Linked DNA regions of Homo sapiens: region 1 is linked to region 2. The links come from fine-mapping of genetic effects on gene expression. A gene starts in region 2. The other region holds a variant in brackets. All regions are shown on one strand. Distances are from middle to middle. Region 1 has its middle 40 kb from the start of FAM184A. Region 2 holds the start of ASF1A (anti-silencing function 1A histone chaperone).

Region 1 (5,382 bases), 220 kb before region 2:
ATGACATGCACCTGTAGGCCCAGCTACTTGGAAGGCTGAGGTGGGAGGATCTCTTGAGCCCAGGAGGTTGAGGCTAAAGTGAGCCATGATCTTGCCACTGCACTCCAGCCTGAGTGACAGAGTGAGACCCTGTCTCAAAACAAATGAAAAACTTTCCTATTAAAAATATAATACAGGGCTAGGTGTGGTGGCTCACACCTATAATCCCAGTACTTTGAGTGGCCAATGTGGGAGGATTACTGGAGGCCAGGAGTTCAACAGCAGTCTGGGCATCATATCAAGACTTCATCTCTACAAAAAAAAAAAGAAAGTTTTTCAGATGCAGTGGTACCTGCATACAGTCCTAGCTACACAGGAGTTTGAGGCAGGATGAGCATGCCACTGCACTCCAGCCTGGGCAACAGAACAAGACCCTGTCTCCTAAAAAAAAAAAAAAAGAAAGAAAGAAAGAAAGAAAGGAAGAAAGAAAGAAAGAAAGAGAAAAACCATCACTTTATTTTAGTCCATAAAATTGAGTGAAAAAAAAAAGTAATACATTTCTCCACTCAAATAGAAACAGCTCTGCCACTAGATCCTATTTCACACCCATTAGGATGGCTGTATTTAATAAGACAGACCATAGTAAGTGTTGATGAGGATATGGAGAAATTTGAACCCTCATACGTTGTTAGCGGGATTGTAAAATAGTACAGCCACTTTAGAAAACAGTTGGGAGTTCCTTAAAATGTGAAACATAGAGTTACCATATGACACAGCAACTCCACCTCTGTGTATATACTCAAGAGAACCGAAAACATTTGTCCACACATTTGAACACTAATACTGATGGCAGCATAATAGCCCCAAAGTAGAAAAAACTCAAAGGTCCATCAACTGAAGGACAGTGTCTATACAATATGTAGTGTGTCTATACAATGGAGTATTATCTGGCCATAAAGAGGAATGAATATAGATACGTACTAAAACATGGATAAACCTTGAAAACATTATGTTTCCTGAAAGATACAGAATACCATATATTGTATGATGTCACTTCTATCAAATGTCCACCACAGGCAAATCCGTAGAGAAAGTAGATTAGTGGTTGCCAGGGGCTGGGAAGAACAAGCGGATTATGAGTAACAGCAAATGGGTGCAGGGTTTCTTTTTGCAGTGATGCAACCTTCTAAAATTAGATGCTGGTGATGCTTGCACAATTCTGTGAATATGCTAAAAACAACTGACTGTGAACTGTATACTTTAGAAGAGTGAATTTTAGGGTACGTGAATTATGTCTCAATAAGACTATTATTATTATCATTTGGGGCAGGGTCTTGCTGTGTCACCCATGCTGTGCTGCAGCGGCACAATCATGGCTCACTGCAGCCTCGACCTCCTGGGCTCAAGCAATCCTCTCAACTCAGCCTCCTGGGACTACAGGCATAAACCACCATGCCCTACGAATTTTTATTTTTTATTTTTTTATTTTTTTGTATTTTGTAGAGACAGAATCTCACCATCTTGCTCAGGCCAGTCTTGAACTCCTGGACTCAAGTAATCCTCCTGCCTCTGTCTCCCAAAGTGCTGGGTTTACAGGCATGAGCCACGACACCTAGCCTCAATATAGCTATTACTTTTTTTAAAAAGGCAAAAACTGATGACATGTTGGAGAAGTTTTTTCCAGTCTCTTTTTTTCTTAATTTTATAGTTGTGGTTATTTTGTGTTCATATACTAACAATTTTTAAAGTATGCCATCTTATTACAAACTCATTATCAGGGGAACCTGCCCCCGATTTCACATGGGTTCTTTTCTATTTTCCCTAAGCACTGGCCGGTTTGAGAAATAAAGGGACAGAGTACAAAAGAGAGAAATTTTAAAGCTGGGTGTCCGGGGGAGACTTCACATGTCGGTAGTTTCTGTGATGCCCCCTGAGCTGTAAAACCAGCAAGTTTTTATTAGTGATTTTCAAAAGAGGAGGGAGCGTACGAATAGGGTGTGGGTCACAGAGATCACGTGCTTCACAAGGTAATACACTATCACAAGGCAAATGGAGGCAGGGCGAGATCGCAGGACCACAGGACCGGGGCGAAATTAAAATTGCTAATGAAGTTTTGGCACGCATTGTCATTGATAACAT[C/G]TTATCGGGAGACAGGGTTTGACAGCAGACAACCAGTCTGACCAAAATTTATTAGGCGGGAATTTCCTCATCCTAATAAGCCTGGGGGCGCTATGGGAGACTGGGGCTTATTTCATCCCTACAGTTTCGACCATAGAAGACAGCCGCACCCAAGGGGGCCGTTTCAGAGGCCTACCCTTAGGGATGCATTCTCTTTCTCAGGGATGTTCCTTGCTGAGAAAAAGAATTCAGCGATATTTCTCCCATTTGCTTTTGAAAGAAGAGAAATATGGCTCTGTTCTGCCCAGCTCACTGGCGGTCAGTTTAAGGTTACCTCTCTTGTTCCCTGAACACTGCTGTTATCTTGTTTTTTTTTCAAGGTGCCCAGATTTCATATTGTTCAGACACATATGCTCTACAAACAATTTGTGCTGTTAACGCAATCATCACAGGGTCCTGAGATGACATACATCCTCCTCAGCTTACGAAAATGATGGGATTAGGAGATTAAAGTAAAGATAGGCATAGGAAATCACAAGGGTATTGATTGGGGAAGTGATAAGTGTCCATGAAATCTTCACAATTTATGTTCAGAGATTGCAGTAAAGACAGGCGTAAGAAATTATAAAAATATTAATTTGGGGATCTAATAAATGTCAATGAAATCTTCACAATTCATGTTCTTCCACCATGGCTTCAGCCAGTCCCTCTGTTTGGGGTCCCTGACTTCCCGCAACAACTCATGAGAAACATAATAGCTTTATAAACTCTGTTGAGATCATTTCCCACAATAATAAAGGTAACTATTATTGAGTGTTTAATATGAGCTAAGTATTATTCTAAGCCCTTTATATATATTGTCTTATTTAATACTGACAACAACTTTAGGAGATCAGTGATTTTTATGCTCACATTTTACATAGGAAGAAATGAATGTTAAATTAATTTTATAGCTAGTGAATGGTGGAGCCAGTGTACTGTTTTACATTCACTCCAGTTTTTCATTATTATAAAAAATAAGAATTATCCTTGATTGTGGAAGACCAAACTTCTGCATCTATGGAAAGGTCCTGGCTTAATTAATAACTGCAGGTCAGAGCTTCCCATGCCCCAAAGGCCATATACAGCAATCCAGAAAGCAAAGTTTCTGCCTTAAAATCTGAGTGATCTTTGGTGTCACTTCATCTCTTCTTGACCCTCTGGGTGATCCAGAATTTAGACCCTGCCTCCAGCTCTCTGGTCCCTGACTGCTTCTCTCCTGTAACTGAGTCCCTGACTGGTCCTGCTTCTGGGATACCCCCACCCCTGCCTGTTTCTCTCAACCCTTGGCTGGCTAAACTTGCACTAAAAGGCAGACTCCACACACCTAGCTAAACTTTCAGGTCCTACAAATCCTCAACCAATTAAATTAATCACTAAAAAGGAGGGTTCAAGTCCTCCATTTCTAACCATGTGAACTAGAGAAGCAACCTCTTTGAGTCTGTTTTGTTATCTGTAAAAAATGATAATCCTACTGTATACTTCACAGGGTTGTTTTGAGGTTCACCTAAGATAAAGTACTTCATAAACCGTGAAGGTACGTAAGAAGCAGGTCTTACCTCTGAGTCGCAGGCATGTTCAAAGCAATGGGGCCTCTGACAGCAGCAACAGAACTGATATAGCCTCTCAAGGTGACCACAGTGGAAGAGGCCGCCTGGGTTAGGGTCCGATTATACATTGCTGTACTCAAATGTATTGTGTGGCAGTATGGCCTACTGACAACTTTAAGTACGAAAAGGACTAGCCAGGAAGCCCTGCCAGGGCATTGCTAATTGAACATTCTCTACATGGATCTCACTATTTCTTCTTCCCTCTTCCCTGTTTCCTAGCCTAGTTAAGGGCACCACTATGTACATGGTCACCAAAATCAGAAATCTGTTGATCATTCCTGATTCCCAGTAGTCCAAGTTAAAATCCCAAGAGTTTGTTTCTCACTCTCTCTCACCCTTACACACAAAATGATCCACAGACTTGTCTCCCAAATCTATGCCCACTCCCAATCCCCTAGCCTTGGTTAATGTCCTCCTAGCCTCCAAACTCGATGATTGCAATCGTGTCCCCTGCTGGTCGCACCTGGTAGTTCTACTTGGTCACTCACCAATTCTCCTGAGACCTGAATAATATTTCTAAAATGCAGATACTATCCTGTCTGGGAGGCTTTCCTGTTTTCCAAAGGATAAAGTCAAAACATTTAGAATGCCATACAGAGCTCATCTCACATACACACACTTCCTCCCCAGGGTCCTCTTCTGGCCTCTGCTTCCTCTCCAGATGCCCCTTACTCTTTACAAAGGGACTGTGGATTGTTTTCAGAATACACTATGCACTTTCATATATCTGTGATTTTCCAAATACTGTTCCCTAAGCCTGAAAATTCCTCCTGTCCTCCTTAATCCTTCTCTGCTTTGAGAGAGTCTTCTTCCCTTTGAGATCCAGTCAATGCCAGTTTTATGAAGTCTTCCACAGGCAGCTGGACACTCATTTCTCTGGACTTGCACAGCACTGTGGACATTTATCGCCTTGTAATGTTTTTATTGATTCACCTGCTTTTCTCCTCCACTAGACTGGGATTTGTAATAAAGAGCCTGAGTCTATTTTTTATGTCTGACTACTGAAAGTTTTCTTTTTTAAAAACAGGTTTCAACTTATTGTAGATTAAGGGTACACATGCAGATTTGTTATATGGGTAAACTGTGTGACACTGAGGCTTGAGGTCCCAACGATCCTGTCGTTCAGGTCATAGGCATAGTACCCAACATGGGGTCCTTTAGCCCATGCCCCCCTCCCTCCCTCATCTAGTGATCCCCAGTGGCTATTGTTCCCATCTTTATGATCATGTGTACTTAGTGTTTAGCTCCCACTTATAAATGAGGACATGCGGTATCTGGTTTTTTGCCTTTGTGTTAGATCACTTAGGATAATGGACTACTGGAAGTTTTCAAGCCCACCAGTCCCTTTTCCCCTTCTGCCCCCACCTCTGAGCAAGCCATTACAAAAAGCCATGCTCTCTCTCCTTTGGAGCTGATAGGAAATTCAAACCCTCAACAGGGAAACCCTCACTGTGGCCCCATCTCCTAACCACCATAAAGCCCCAAGACAGTCTCTAGTCCCTGCTCTCTCTCTCTCTCGTTGTGTGTGTGTATGTGTGTGTGTGTGTGTGTGTGTGTGTGTGTGTGTGTTTGAGACGGAGTCTTTCTCTGTCACCCAGGCTGGAGTGCAGTGGCGCCATCTCAGCTCACTGCAACC
Region 2 (5,382 bases):
TTAACCCTTGATATAAGCCCTATATTAGAAAGAACCAAATTATCTTAAGACCAAATATTCCTCAAGGCTTTTTCTGAAGCAAAGCTACAGGGCAGCTCTTAAAGGAAAGTGAACGTTTGGGGCTACTGATGAAAGTATGAAAAACGGTGGCCAAACTCTGCTTTGAGACTTGAGGCAAAATAACTTATTAAGAAAATTCTTTTCAAAATATTCTATAGTTTGGGCTGGGTGCAGTGGGCTCACTATAATCACAACACTATGGGAGGCAGGGGTGGGAGGACTGCTTGAGCCCAGGGGTTCGAGACCAGCTTGGGCAACATGGCAAAACTCCGTCTCTACAAAAAATTAAAAAATTAGCCCAATGTGGTGGCACATCGACTATGGTCCCAGCTATTCAGGAGGCTAAGGTGGGAGGATTGCTTAAGCCCAGGTTGAGGCTGCAGGGAGCAGCTGTGTTTGCACCACTGTACTCCATCCAGCCTGAGTGCCAGAGCAACACTGTCTCATTTAAAAAAAAAAAAATTCTATAGTTTAATTTTAAGAACAGAATTTTTAAAAGAACTGTAATATAAAAGTATGGAACCTATTAGAAGCCTTTGCTAAGTAAAAATTTCCTTAATCCACATAGCCTCTAGGTGGAGTATACAGGCATGGCACCTTTTTGAAAGATTCCTTTGCAGCTTCAGTATGACTCAGCTTAAAATATTTTTTAAAATACTAAATAAATGCTCAGTAATGGTGCCTAGGAAGTGAAATATACCATTGGAAATAAGTATGTTTTTGACACCAGTACTGTAAATCCCTGATGTGATTCAGCTGGGTTCTGAATGGATCCCAGTTAAAAATGGAACGTTTTGGCTTTATGAATGGCTGGTTTCATCTATGCAATGTAAAAGCCCTGTAACGACATCCTGAGTCATCTATCTTCTTTGTTCAGAGCTGACTCCTAAAATGGAAGGCAACACTTGAGAAATACCTGTAATTTGAAGAACTTCTGGTGGTATATCTGAAAAACAGTGTGGTATAAGTTGGAATGGACCGATCAATGGTTTTTCTTTTGTCTATTTTTATATGCAGTTGGCAATAAAAAAAAAATTACTGTTGGGTGTGAAAAATGGGCCTGGTAGCTGCAATGCTTATATTAATAGTAGTATCATAGGAGAGTAATCAAATGACTTCAGAGTAATAAGAAAAATACCCCTTAGTGTTATCAATGGCCTATTTGAAATTATTTTAATAAATGAATCATCTTTCAAAATTTGCCCTATATATGTATGTGCATTTATGCTCTATATAGGTTTAAAAAAAAAAAAAAAACGGGGGCACATGTTAAAGTAATAATTGTGATTACCGAAAGGAGATAGGGCAAGGCACTGAGTACAGAGAACTGTTAACTTTATATATGCCTGTACAACTTTCTAAAAGTTTATTACAATGAATATATATTGTTTTATAATTAAAATTAACCTTACATATGATATATACATTTTAGAGATTAAAAACTAGTTTTTAAAATGAAAAGTTTTACATGCCACGATTACCTAAATCATCTTCAATGCATTTTTTACATATACTTCTAGTTCAAAGTATGTCCCTCATCGATGAAGTTAAACTATTTCCCCTTCAAAACTGGCAAATGAAGCACTGAATTACTTTAGTAAAAGATAATTAAAGCAAAGATAATTGTCGTTTTAGCTTTCTAAATATTTATTACTAAAGATATTAAAAATACGTATTTTTAAGACCTTAAAATATATGTAGAAAAAATACCAAGAATTCTTGGACTGACATGAGGAGTTGACCTTAATTTCCTAGCCTACGTTTGTGTTTTATGTTTAGGGTGTGTTCTGTATTTGGATGTGGAGTTATTTTAGATTTCAACACGGTCTTGAAGAAAGTCTTCCTTCAGACTATTTATAAGGCAGAGATTAAGTCCTGGAAATTATTTAAGTATCTTATTTCTGCTTTTAGGTTAAATGTAACTTCCTACCTCAGCTCTATTTCTCTTCCTGAAATTAGCTTTTCGTCATTAGGGGAAAGGAGTCCACGTTGGTTGGGGAGCCTGCGCGCCAGCATCCCGGCGCATCCCGGGCGCCGGCCGAGGAGGACCGGCCGAACAGGACCCACGGCCCCCGGGGAGCGCCGGCGCCCAGCCCGCGGCGCGGAGGGGCCGAGCCTGCGCCCGCCTCCCCCGCTGGTTGGTCGAGGAAGCCAGAAATCAGCGCGAGGACAGCCTCGCTCTCCTCCCCGAAGCGGCCAGGCATGGCCAGCCCGGAGAGTGCGGCGACTCCACCGTGAGCTCTCGAGAGTGCCTGCCTGCCTTTCGCCGGGGGCAGGCGGGCGGCGGGGCAAGAGGAGGCGCCGTGCGCCGGGGTCGCTGGCCCAATTCTCGACTCGGGGTAAGATGGCTCCGCTCCGAACTCGCCGGCGCGACCACACGCACAGCCTCTCCCTTCCCAGCCTCCGTGCTCGGGCCCGGAGGGTCGCGGAGGCTGTTGGCGGCGCGGAGCCAGCCCGGCGCGACCTCAGGCGGCGCAGCGGGAGCGAGTGCGGGTCTCCGAGCTGCCCGCCCGCAGACAAAGCTGACAACATGGCTACCTCCGCTCCTCCGCTCAAACAAGTTCCTCGCAAGTTGAGCCCGGCAGGCGCCTGGGCTGCGGCGGAAAGCCGCGCGCGCCTCGGCGGCCGTCGTCCATCAACTTCAAGTTTCCCTCCGCAGAGCAGCCCGCGGCCGCCAGGCGCCGAACACAGCCGCCCAGCGCGAGGCCCGGCCCGGGAAACTTTCAACGTCTGCAGCCCGCAACTGACAGCCCGGGCGCACGGGCGCCGCACTCACCTTCAGACAGGTCCTCGATGCACTCGAAGGTGATCTCGAACTGGAACGGGTTGTAGAAAGGAGAAGGGTTATCCAGCACCACTACATTGTTCACCTGAACCTTTGCCATATTTTGAAAAAAACACAAACAATGGGAACTGGGGCTGGTTGCGGCACAATAAAGTCCAGCGCGCGGCCGCTCGGGAGAGCGCAGACCCCCGCTCCAGCGCCGGCCAGACGTCGTGCAGCGGCGACTTGAGAAACTTTTTTCCTCTTTTTATTTACACGGGAGCACTCCACAGTGTTTTGCAGCTTTCCTATTTCACTAAACTACAGCCCATTCTGCTCTGATAAGTAGCAGCGTTGCCCTCGATTGGCTGCACCCGAGTTCTGACCCTCCTCCTCCAGCGAGGGCCTCGGCAGCCAGCAAGATGGGCTCCCGCTCCCGGAATGGACTCGGAAACTTTAACTGCGGCTCCACCTGCTGGTGTGGATTAGGACAAAGGCGGAGAACAAAGTGAGTGGAATAAGGGCTGGGAGGCCCGCGCGGAGGCCGCCGGCGGCGGCGCGGAGAGGGGCGGAGGGGGCGTGGCCGCGGCGGGGAGGCGTGGCTGCGGCGGGAGGGCGCGATCCGGCCGACGCCCGCCCCTCCAGTTGGCTTCGTGTGGGTGTTTTGGCGTTTTTTTGTTTTTTTTTTTGTTTTTTTGGTTTTTTGATTTAACGCTCTTTTTACATCAGTGCAACAGCTTTGCCGGCCTTGCTGAATTTAGCAGATGAGAGTCGGTGTTTACACTGGGTTAGGTTCAGCTTTCTGCGTATCGGGTAGTATTTGGAGTAGAGAGAAAGATTGGCTGCAGGGGAAATAAATTGCATGTTATAGACCGATGTCAGCTCGAAAGGAGCAAAGCCATTTTGGAAATCTAGCTCTTGGCCAGTATCTACGTTTAGGCACGACAGCGCCGTTAAGCAACACAAAATGAAGGGCGAGGAATGATTTTCTACACACTGTGCTTGGAAAATTTAAATAGGTAACCTTTGGGCTTGCACCTGGGCGTCTTCTTCGGAGTCCAGATCTGGGAAGTCCTAGAATAAAAAAAAATCACAAGAGGTGTGATCAGTTATACTTCAGGTTACTGCCATTTGGAGAGCATAGCAGGAACATAAAAGGAGAAAATGGAAGTGTTAGGAGACCAACAGGGCAACAAACGTAATAGAGATGGGAAAAAGAACACAAAGACATAGCAAGACATTTGATCTTCAAAAAAATTTCTGACCTAAACCGTTAGTAAAGCAAATTCTGAGGAGCCCTTGCTTGCCTGTAACCAGTTGAGGTCTGAACTGAGGAAATGTTGATTCGTTTATGCTGCTTGGCTACCATTGCGGGGAAAGAGAAAGCTTTAACATATTTGTGAGCCTAAACCGTTTCTATTTAGTAAGTGGTATAAAGGTTTGTTTTATTATCTGCTAGCCATAAACCATCATTTTTTTCCTTAAATGTTGTGAATGAAACCACCAAACTTGGCCAAATTCAGAGAGAAAATTAATTCTTAAGTATGTGTTCTGGAAGAGTTTTCTCTTAGTATAGTGCCCAGAATTTTGATTTGTCATTCTTTGGTCATTGTTCATACTTAAGTAGGTGGCTTTTGATGAAACGTTTTCATCTGATGGTCTTTTGAAAGTTAATGTGAGACAGCTAATGTCAACCCCTCGTACATTTAGGAAAACCGGTTAGAGTGGGGAAGAGTTCCCTTTTTTTGTCAGTGGATTGAACAGTTAGATATAGGACCTACCAAAAAACACTTCTTCAAGCCAGTTGTTTGTGACATTAGAGTATTAAGAGTCAAACCATGGTGATAGACACAGATTTTTGTGGCTGATAAACAACATACTCTTCATTCTTATTAGTGCTGGTCCTAACACTAGCAGATAAAGTGGAAATTGCTGTATGCTGTAAGACACTCTGTATATGTAAGATAAAATGACCATTTGAAGATTAAAACTCCTGTGAGACTGGTGTATGCAGTTGTCTGATTATTACAGGTACTCTTAAGAGGAGAGTCTAGTCAGTCTCATGAAAACGACATTTTATGCTTGTTAAAATCACGTGCATTTTGCAGTCTGACCGTAAGTGTTACAATGAGACTAGTTGTAAAACTCACTTTTGGTGGATGTGCAGCATGAAGGACTGAGAAGATCTACCTGAATGCCACTAATTTGGCTTATTTTCTTTAAAATTTTTTGTTTAACACATCATATGCAACAGTATTTAAGAAGAAAAAACTCCCCAACATTTCACTGGAAGCTGCAAGAATTAGCTCCAGGCTTCTCCTGTCTTAACTCTTGTATTATTGCTTGTCAGAAATACTAAAGGGTCGTTGAGCACTTTGTTCAATAGTTTCCTCACCATTGATACTACCTTACTCCAGGAGAGACCGAAAGGATTCCTCAGATATGTCCTGGCATATTTCTAATTTAACTGGTATGCTGTAGGAAAAAAAGAATTGTGAAAGCCTCTCTCTGGTTTCAGAGGCAATCAGTAGGACTTGTTGCTGAACAACTTTGGTGAC

Evidence for each region. PIP is the estimated chance that this variant, and not a neighbour inherited with it, causes the effect.
Region 1: its variant is the best candidate, but not a certain one, in a credible set for the expression of ASF1A in whole blood (INTERVAL, PIP 0.64).

The regions. Positions count from the first base shown.
Region 1 is chr6:119,115,904-119,121,285 of GRCh38, reverse strand. It overlaps a transcript of FAM184A not described here. Among named protein-coding and RNA genes, the nearest start is that of FAM184A, 40 kb to the right of the region's middle. The variant C/G (reference allele first, on the strand shown) is at 2,119.
Region 2 is chr6:118,891,977-118,897,358 of GRCh38, reverse strand. It overlaps ASF1A (anti-silencing function 1A histone chaperone), which reads right to left and starts at 3,207. Exons shown (of 4, transcript NM_014034.3): 1 at 2,837-3,207. The coding sequence starts at 2,945. All of the region lies in intron 8 of MCM9 (minichromosome maintenance 9 homologous recombination repair factor), which reads left to right. RefSeq lists silencers at 2,013-2,542, 3,333-3,472 and an enhancer at 2,923-3,012.